Regions from separate parts of the Homo sapiens genome. Here region 1 is linked to region 2. Evidence: fine-mapped expression QTL. Tissue or cell type: thyroid. Region 2 holds a variant in brackets; the other region holds the start of a gene. All regions are shown on one strand. Distances are from middle to middle.

The links. PIP is the estimated chance that this variant, and not a neighbour inherited with it, causes the effect.
Region 1: PLAGL1 starts here. The variant in region 2 is fine-mapped to the expression of PLAGL1 in thyroid (GTEx, PIP above 0.99).

What each region holds. Positions count from the first base shown.
Region 1 is chr6:144,006,147-144,011,299 of GRCh38, forward strand. It overlaps PLAGL1 (PLAG1 like zinc finger 1), which reads right to left and starts at 2,113. Exons shown (of 8, transcript NM_001317162.2): 1 at 1,944-2,113. It overlaps HYMAI (hydatidiform mole associated and imprinted), which reads right to left and starts at 2,113. Exons shown (of 1, transcript NR_002768.3): 1 at 1-2,113. RefSeq lists silencers at 1,542-1,724, 1,920-2,109, 2,300-2,349.
Region 2 is chr6:143,947,584-143,952,736 of GRCh38, forward strand. It overlaps PLAGL1 (PLAG1 like zinc finger 1), which reads right to left. Exons shown (of 8, transcript NM_001317162.2): 7 at 402-877. The coding sequence starts at 553. Among named protein-coding and RNA genes, the nearest start is that of HYMAI, 58 kb to the right of the region's middle. The variant G/A (reference allele first, on the strand shown) is at 2,096.

The DNA.
Region 1 (5,153 bases), 59 kb after region 2:
TGGAATTTATGAAATAAAACATTACTGATAAATTCCCTAGGTACTCCTCCCTGAGCAAGATTTTTTTTTTCTAAAAAGAAGCCAGGAAATAAGAATAACAGACGGAGAGCCCTAGACTCAGGCTTCTTCAGTTTGCAACACCCATATTTTAACATATTTGGGGGGAAATGTAACATTCAAACCCAGTGTGTATCATTTAACAAAGAGTTACAAAGCAAACACCCATGTAACCATTGCACAGGTCAGGCGATAAAGCATTTCCAGCATCTCTGAGCCCCTGACCCTCTCCTCCCCACTAGGAGATGACCATTAGCTTGACTTTTTTTCTTTACTACTTTTAATGCCTATACATGCATCCCTAAACAACAGCTTTGCTCCACCAGGTTCTGAATTTTACATAGAAGATATCACACAGCATTCTCCGGCAACTTTTTTTTTTTTTGGTTCAACACTGAAAGGCATTTGTGTTGAAACACAAAAATACTTCATTGGCCACTGTACAGTGTGCCCTTTTTATGAGTGGTGTATAATTTATCTTTCTCCTTCAGGTAGGCATGAAGGCGGCATCCAGTTTTCTGCCATTACAGTCAACCTTCTTGTACACGTCTGCTTGTGGACATGTATTAAAATTTATCTAGGGCAGTGGCTTTCAAACTTTTTTGTCCATGACTCATACTAAGGAATGACGTTTTACATCATGACACACATTTGTGTATGTATGAAACTGAGGAGGGGGAGAGAGATTCATAAAGCGAACACCCCTATGACCTGAGAGACACTGATGTTCTATTCTCCGTCTGTGTTTTACAAATTCTGATCATCCATTTAAATGACTTTACGACCCACTAAAATGGACTTCAAATTCTGAAAAACATTGTTCTTAAGGATGAATACCCAGGCGTGCAACTGCTGGATCAGGAAACACGGACATCGGACGTCGTCAACTTTTCCAGATCCTTAACTGTTAAATGTTCTTATCTAAGCGCATATAAATTTACCACTATTTAACTTCAGAGCGAAAAGCGTGAAACATCAGAGAACATTTTATCTTTTCCCTCGGTCATTAAACAGTATTAATCACTTACCATGTGCTAAGTAAGCAATCTCTGAGCCCAGCGAGACCGGTGGGTTAATACGCGGAGGGGCTGCGGGGGAGGACTTAGGGGACCAGGACCTCAGTGAGGCCCCAGAAAGCACCCGGGAGGGGCCTCCGATCCTGCCTGGGAGGGAGGGGTTAGAGGAGGATTCCTGGAAGAAGGAGGACCTAAGCTGGGTGTTTCTATTTTTGATTTTTATTGGTTTCCTAAAACATGAAAGTAACACATTTGATGAGAAAAAATATTCAAAATTACAGGAGTATATTCAGTAAAAGGTAGAAATCCCCATTCCGCCCTGAAAGTTGGATGCGGAGACTAACAGAAGTCGCATTATCAGCTGTCCCGATCTAGGAAATTTTTAGGACCCCACGTTTTTAAATACTTTTAAGAGTATGTCTGATACAGTCTGTAATACTAAAGCATCAAAATAATCATATTTTCCATAAGAGACGAAAGTGCAAACAGTTACTGTCTAGTCCCATTATTACTTGGAACAGACTTTTTCTTCTTTTCCTTGTTCTGTTTTTTTCCTGGCCCGTTGGCGAGGTTAGAGCGCCAGGTTGTAAGAATCGGGTCTGTGGACCTCATACCAGATAGGCGCGAACGCCTCTGGCAGCGGCGTCCAGGGGGTCCGGCGGCACTCGCGGTGGGGCTGCCTGGGTTGCGGGTGACGATCTGCGGGGTCCCGCACCCGGCCCCGCGGAGCCCGGACCCGCACGTAGGCGGCGCGGCAAAGGCACACCCTCCTCGCGGCCGCGAACCCAGCGCCGTCCTCGCAGCGCGGCAATGCACGGCCACCGCTGCCCCCAGCCCGCCCGCCGCAGCCGCGAGCACCCAAACACCTACCCTGCGGGGCGACGACCCCCGGAGCTCAGGCGAGGCCGCTCGGGCGTGCCACCTCCGCGGCCATGACGGCGACCCGGGGAAGCGCCCCGCGCGCCAAGGCCCCGCGCTGCTGAGCTGTGAGCACGGCTGCCCCGTCCGTCCGTCCGTCCAGCACCCGCCCGGAGAGTGAGGCCAGAGCACGCCCCAGCCGTGTCTAAATCAAGGCTCGGGGCGGTACCGACGGGCTGAATGACAAATGGCAGATGCCGTGGGCTTTGCCGCCCGCGGCAGCCAAGAGGATGGCTGCGCCGAGGAGGCCGCGCGCAGGCGGGGCTCGGGAGCCGGAACGGCGCGGCCGCGAGGAGGGCGCTGGGGCCCCTGGCGGGGGCGTCACGTGGCAGGAGGAGGCCCCGCCGGGGAGCTGGGGGTCGGCGGCCGAGGCGGGGGGAGCTGAGCGGCACCCACACGTCCTGCGGGCCGGGTCACCGGTGGGGGCAAAGCCAAGGTCGCCCAGGTACAGCGCTGGCGCAGGTAGACCCGAGCCGGCCTGGGGTCTGCAGCGGGGCCTGCTAGCCGAAGTCTCCGCCAGGATGGGCCGCCAGAGCCCAATCACACATGAGAAACGCGACAGATGCTGGGACGCTGCAATAGGCCAAACTAACTTACCTCCTGTGCCAGCAGCGCCCAAGTGCAGCTGCCCAAACGTGAGCACTGACCGTGAGCCAGGCACTGTCCTAAGCACTTTGCAGGTAAATACGTGTAATCCTCACAGCAACACTGGGAGAAATACCCGTCTCACAGCTGAAGAAACGAAGACGCAGAAAGGGTAGACAGAAGTAATTTTCTAATTACGGTATCACACTACGTCTGCTTCATATAATTTCAAATTTTTCATGTTACTGGAATTTAAGAAAAATAAACTGAAGGGAATCTCTATTGCTTTCTTCCCTAAAAGACGTGCTTTTTAAAAGGCCTATAAGCATTACGTAAAAAGATTAAGAGAGGTGTAAGGAGCTCACTACATGTTCGGGTTTAGAAAGTCTCATAGCTCTGAAAGATGAGGTTAATTAGCATCATACACCTCCACCTACCTTTAGGGGGTAACCCTGCCTCTCAATTTCCATTAGTTCTGTTACTTTCGGCTTCCTAGCAATGAGAACATTTGCAATTGCTCTGCAACTTTATTTTTCCAGATGTTGTCTTAATTCTATCTTTAAATGAATTTGATATTCACTGTAACTTATCTATCCCTGAATTTTTATTTTTATTTAGTTCTTGATGGACTTCCTTCATTTTCAAGTCATATTCCTAAGGAGGGTTTATAGAGTGCTGCCATGTTTGAGAAGATCTGGTGTTTTTCTCTATACATAAATAAAAAGTGAGTTGGGTAAATATTTTCAATTCACACCTTCCTTCAAAACCTAACAGAACAAGATGGCAATTGCTTTATTTATTTTTTTATTATACTTTAAGTTTTGGGATACATGTGCAGAACGGGCAGGTTTGTTACATAGGTATACACATGCCATGGTGGTTTGCTGCACTCATCAACCCGTCATCTACATTAGGCATTTCTCCTAATGCTATCCCTACCCCACTAGCCCCCCACTCCCCAACAGGCCCCAGTGTGTGATGTTCCCCTCCCTGAGTCCATGTGTTCTCATTGTTCAACTCCCACTTATGAATGAGAACATGCGGTGTTTAGTTTTCTGTTCCTGTGTTAGTTTGCTGAGAATGATGGTTTCCAGCTTCATCCATGTCCCTACAAAGGACATGAACTCATCCTTTTTTATGGCTGCATAGTATTCCATGGTGTATATGTGCCACATTTTCTTAATCCAGTCTATCACCAATGGCCATTTGGGTTGATTCCAAGTCTTTGCTATTGTGAATAGTGCTTCAATAAACATACGTGTGCATGTGTCTTTACAGTAGAATGATTTATAATTCTTTGGGTATATACCCAGTAATGAGATTGCTGGGTCAAATGGTATTTCTGGTTCTAGATCCTTGAGGAATTGCCACACTGTCTTCCACGATGGTTGAACCAATTTACACTCCCACCAACAGCGTAAAAGCGTTCCTATTTCTCCACATCCTCTCCAGCATCTGTTGTTTCCTGACTTTTTAATGATTATCATTCTAACTGGCATGAGATGTTACCTGATAAGCAACTTCAGCAAAGTCTCAGGATACAAAATCAATGTGCAAAAATCACAAGCATTCCTATACCCCAATAGTAGACAAATAAGAGAGCCAACACATGAGTGAACTCTGATTCACAATGGCGACAAAGAGAATAAAATACCTAGGAATACAACTTACAAGAGATGTGAAGGACCTCTTCAAGGAGAACTACAAACCACTGCTTAAGGAAATCAGAGAGGACACAAACAAATGGAAAAACATTCCATGCTCATGGATTGGAAGAATCAATTATCATGAAAATTGCCATACTGCCCAAAGTAATTTATAGATTCAATGCTATCCCCATCAAGCTACCATTGACTTTCTTCACAGAATTAGAAGAAACTACTTTAAATTTCATATGGAACCAAAAAAGAGCCCGTATAGCCAAGACAATCCTAAGCAAAAAGAACAAAGCTGGAGGCATTACACTACCTGACTTCAAACTACACTACAAGGCTACAGTAACCAAAACTGCATGGTACTGGTACCAAAACAGATATATGGACCAATGGAACAGAACAGAGTCCTCAGAAATAACACCACACATCTACAACCATCTGATCTGTGACAAACCTGACAAAAACAAGCAATAGGTAAAAGATTCCCTAGTTAATAAATGGTGTTGGGAAAAACTGGTTAGCCATATGCAGAAAACTGAAACTGGACCGCTTCGTTACACCTTATACAAAAATTAACTCAAGATGGACTAAAGACTTAAAACATCAGACCTAAAACCATAAAAAGCCTAGAAGAAAACCTAGGCAATACCATTCAGGACATAGGCATGGGCAGAGTTCATAACTAAAACACCAAAAGCAATGGCAACAAAAGCCAAAATTGACAATTGGGATCTAATTAAACTAAAGAGCTTCTGCACACCAAAAGAAACTATCATCAGACTGAACAGGCAACCTACAGAATGGGAGAAAATTTTTGCAATTATCCATCTGACAAAGGGCTAATATCCAGAATCTACAAAGCACTTAAACAAATTTATAAGAAAAAAACAACTCCATCAAAAAGTGGGCAAAGGATATGAAC
Region 2 (5,153 bases):
CTCCTCCTCTTTCATTGTGTCACAGCTTAAAGATTGTCCCCATCTGAGAAGCCGTCCCAGGTTTCATCAGGCAGTGAAGAACAACTTCTACCACCTGTATAGCTCTGTCAAAGCAGTGAGGTTGCATTTTAATTGTCTTTTCCTATTTCTCCAGCCATGGGGAGAGGCCTGGTATATTGTAGGTGCATAAAAAATCTCTGTTGAAAGAATGAACTGACACTGCACAACAAGACGGTCACATAAAACCACAGGAATCACTGGATGCAGATTTCAAGAATCCCTCAAAGGCTAAAATGCATCCATATCCTGTGTCCCTTTCCCCTTGCATCGTGTGGTCTGAGGGCTAGAAAAGCCATTTAAACGTACTTCTAAAAGTGCATACCTTTGCCAAAGCCTCTCACCTCATCAATTTATATCTGGAAACAAAGGCTTTGCCACAGTCAGGCTGCACACACTTGTACGGCCGCTCCCTGGAGTGGGAATAATTGTGAATCGTGAACTTCTCCAGGGTGAGGAACGTCTTGCCACATAACTGGCAGGGGAACGTGGCCATGGGCTTTGCTTCTCACACCTTCCTTTTCAGATGTGCTGACCAAATGCTGTGCCATTTAAGCACAAACAGAACGATGGTGCTGGGCACATCAGCAGAGTCCCTGCAGCTGAACTCCAGACCACGGGAGAGGCAGCATCGTGGGCCTGGTTCTACCCAGACATGGACCTCTCAGCTGTCACTAGCTTTGCTTCCTGCTTTCACACATCCCAGTTTACATGCAGTCTCAAGCTGAGGGGAGAAAGTCTGAGGCACAGGTGCGATTCAGGAGCAGAAAGGTAATCTGCATCACTATAGCTGGGGCATGTCCTGGGTCCCCCGGATTGGCTGTGGAGAGAAGAGGAACAGTTTTCTTGCATTAGCCATTTGAAAACAATGCTTTTCCTCCCTGACCGCTTCAGAATCAACTACCCACAATCAACACGTTCCTTTAAATGGTGCTCATGGAACACAGTTCTCCATGTGAGAGGGCCATCTGCATACAAGTCTACACTTTTGGCTTCTCAGAGGGTGAGGAGTCAAGCACTGATGGCCAGTGGAGCACACTTTCCCTCTGGTAAGGAGAGTTCTTTCCACGGATCCAGTATTATCTATTTCAGGTCAGTGTGAAGCTCCATTGACCAAAGAGAAAAACAACAACAACAACAACAACAACAACAAACAAAAACCTCCCTCCCTCAGTGTGTTCAAGTGTTTTTACTGGTCCATAAACAAAAATCACCCACACTTACTCAAACCACGGGCTCTTCCTCATCACTCATTGTTGGCATAACATTAGTTGCTTATCACACCTGTTTAAACTTCCAGAGGATAAGAAATAATTTGTATACACCTAAGTCAATTTGTTTGTAAGATTACTCTGCAGAAGGGCTGATATAAACAGAATGTGCATGAAGCTAGTCTAGTCTAGTTGCACTGATGTGGTGGCACAAAGCTGATAGCTCAGGAACCAGCCCAGGCCACGTTCAGATTTGTAGGCACCATCCTCTAGTAAGTTCTACTAATCTCTTCCTTTTTTGTTTATGGACCTTTCTTCATTCCCTGGCCCTACCCTGGAGGGCCCATCCAGCTACCTGCTGGTAGGCCACCTCCAGGAGATGGGCCTACTGCCTCCTCAAACCCAACTTGTCTCAAACCCAAATCATTATCATCCTTCTGACTCAGCCAGAGTCACCAAAAACCAGGTTCTTCTTTTTCTACCAATTGGCCATCATTGGAGGAACCTGAAGTGTCTGAGCCTGCATCATGAACAATACTCCACTTACTAGGGTGGCTTTCCACCCAAGCTGAGAAACTGTGTTCCAAAAATTTACACTTGGAGATGTCTCCTCCTAGCTTCACTCTCAGGACCTGGACCAACCCCCCACATTTCATCCCTGGACTCTGACAGCAGGTTTCAAATCGGCCTCTACCTGCCACTACCTGCCAGGGTAAAGCCCTGGATCACTACCACCCTGTGCTATTCTAGAGAGAGATTTTCAGGTGGGCAAATGCTCACCTTTCAAGTGCCAATACTTAAAAAAATTAAGAGTACTGTATGCTTAG[G/A]TGAAGTACACTTGAGTAGCTTTTGTCCACAGGCCAGCATTTGCTGAACTTTGCCAGTAAGCAGGGCACTTCATGGTAAACTGACCAATTGCAGTGAGTCTTTAAAGCCCTCCCTGCTCCTTGCAGTCATTTATTGCCATGTCTCTAGAGTTGCTCTTTATTGTTAAAAGTTAATTTTTACTTACCTTTTTGGTTACTTTCAGATCAGAAAGTATGAGTCTAACTAGATGAAACTTTATTGTAATAACAGTTTAAACATGTTTAAATATAGCATTATGTAGCACACGGACATAACCAAACACATATTCCTTTTCTAACCAGCAAAAATTCCAGGAAACTTGTAGAGTTCCTCATCTTCTGTTGTAGATGTTTTCAGTGTCTGGACAGAGTTCGCGGTACCAAGCAAATACCCCTCACCATCCTGCCTCACCCACTTGGAAACGTGAAAGCTGACTCGGGCACTTTTGGTCAGCGCTAATCCAAACCAGGGGACACACAGGAGTCCTCGGCCAGCACCTTGGCACCACACCTTCTTTGTGACGGCTGTGATTCTAGCAGCACACACAACCTCTGCAATTATGTGTGACTTTAACTAATTACCTGTCCCGGCTCTGCCCAAACCCCTTTCCCCCAACCCCTGGTTCCCTTCCAGTATTCTAGTTCATGCCTGAGGCCCTATCTTGAGGAATCCTCAACAGCCCTGGTCACAAACAAAATAACTCCTTCTAGGAATTCTATTCCGCCTGCCGAGTTTGCTCTGCTAGGTATCATGATCTGTTCTACTTCTCACCCAGCCTAAGTTTGGCCATAATACCGGCCCAGCTATAAAACACACTCATTCACTTAGAATTGCTCTGTGTTCTTTCTAGGTTTATTAAAAAAGACTAACACACACAGAGTATGAAGTTTGAAAATGCATCTTTTTCTCATTCCCTTTATAGCTGAACTCAAAATAGCACTCGTCCCACTCGCCCCTTCAGAGAAGGAGCTGCTTTGTTGGGGAAGGTTTTACATTTCTCTCACCTACTTAACACCCTGCATATACACTTTTCTCAACTTATCTCAGTAAGTTGATTCTCCCCAATTCTTGCTTTATGAGATGACTGGCATGTCCAACAGAACTTTCTGCAATGATGGAAATGTTACAGATGTGATGGCTACTGAGCACTCAAAATGTGCCTCTGAGAAACTGAAACTTTTACTTTATTTAACTTTAATTTAAATTGCCACATAGTGCCAGTGGCTGCTGTCCTGGACGGCACAGGCAGACTCTTGGTATTCCCATCAAAGGAGAGGAAGGCAAGGCTGTGCTTTCCTTGGACACAACTGTGCTACTGATTGAGCCTCAGGTGTTTACCCTGAAGCTATAAATCCAGGCACTTGTTCTGTGAATCCAGTGGAAAGATTCCCCAGTTCAAATTCCAACTTACCCATGTTATCTGTGTCGAGTTTCAGTTTCCTCATTTGTGATAGTTACCTGATGTATGTAAACAGGCTGCTGGGACAATCGACTGAGACAAAATGGATCTGAAAGCACACTGTAACCTAAATAAACACCCTACAAATAGGCAGTATTTATGAAACACTGGAATTAAAAGTACTATAGAACCATGTGTCAATGTACAGCTCATGTTCTAACCATTTAGCTATGGATGTAATGGGAAAGAGACACATTCTCTCCCTATGGATACTACACCATATCAATTATACTGGAAAGAAGTGGCAGTGTGGACAACACACGTGTAGAAAGGACACAAGAGGTGGCAAGTAAAACGCCTGCATTCTTTCTCAGCAGATGTAAACCTTGACTCATTGCTTACCAAACACACTAGGAGTACAAAGAAAAAAATAAAGCTTATTCAATTGAAAAACTTGCCCTTTGGCACTGAATGAGGTTTTCCAGATCTCTTTCCAGCCACTTCTTCCCAAGATTCAAAAGGCCAGCAGTCATGGACATCACCCATGCCTACATTTCCCCTGAGCCCTCAAAGATGAATGGGACAATCTGAGCATTAGACATGGCCATGGTTTAAAGGTGAGGCACATTTCCTCCAACTTCAAGTTTCCCTCAAAGACTAAAACACAAAGTCTCTCGTTTTTATGCTTATTTCATGAATATCTTTTCCCAAGGCTTTGAGTTCCAGGTCTGTGTGTTTAATATACCTAGCCTAATACTAATTGCAAAGTTGGTCCTCAGAACTAAGTTAGTTATATAATAGTGAACATTCTTTAATTTCTTCAGAGAGTCCTTAATGAACTCAAATTCATAATTTTTAATCACCGTAACTATGTATTTCTTCCATATGGGCCTTAGAATACAAATATTTGTTTTCATGATATAATAATAAACTTCTGTAAAAACAAGACTGTCTACCCCAACAGACTATAAACGCTTTGTGGCTGAGGGTCAAAGCTTAGCTATTAAAAAACGACAACAACAACAACAACAACTGTGGGTATATACAACATCTCTCATCACCACGCACTTGATCAGTTCAAAGGCTGTTTACTGATGAGTCCAATCTTTGGTTGAAACCCAATGCACTTTCTGGCCACATCCTTAAAACAATTTATGACAACTTTCTATTATCTGGCAGGCCACCAACGATCCTAACAGAACTTACAGAGCAATGGTCCTGATGCGAGTCATTCTGTTCTGTGACTTGACATAGAAATTGCATTTGAGTCTTAAATACGGTGCTATTTCAACACCTGTCACCCTAGAAAGATAGTAAGTCTTACCCCAAAACATCTCAGGACATAATTTTCAGTCCCCTTGATTCTAAAAATACTGAGTGATACAGATCTGCCAGTATGCCAAAGAAGGCTTGTGCCATCTGCTTCGTTCTGCTCATGTTGATTATTTTGGGGATGAGAGAGGATCAGACGGGAAGAAGAACATATATATATGGTAACAGCCAGGAAAGACTGTGTTCCCAGGGGACAGGGGTATACGAGGGTGGAGGGGGGAGTCAGAACACAACTGTAGTTCCAGGACTTCTCCAGTGCTACATAACACATCATCTAATGGGGCACAACTGCTTTACAACATTCTTAA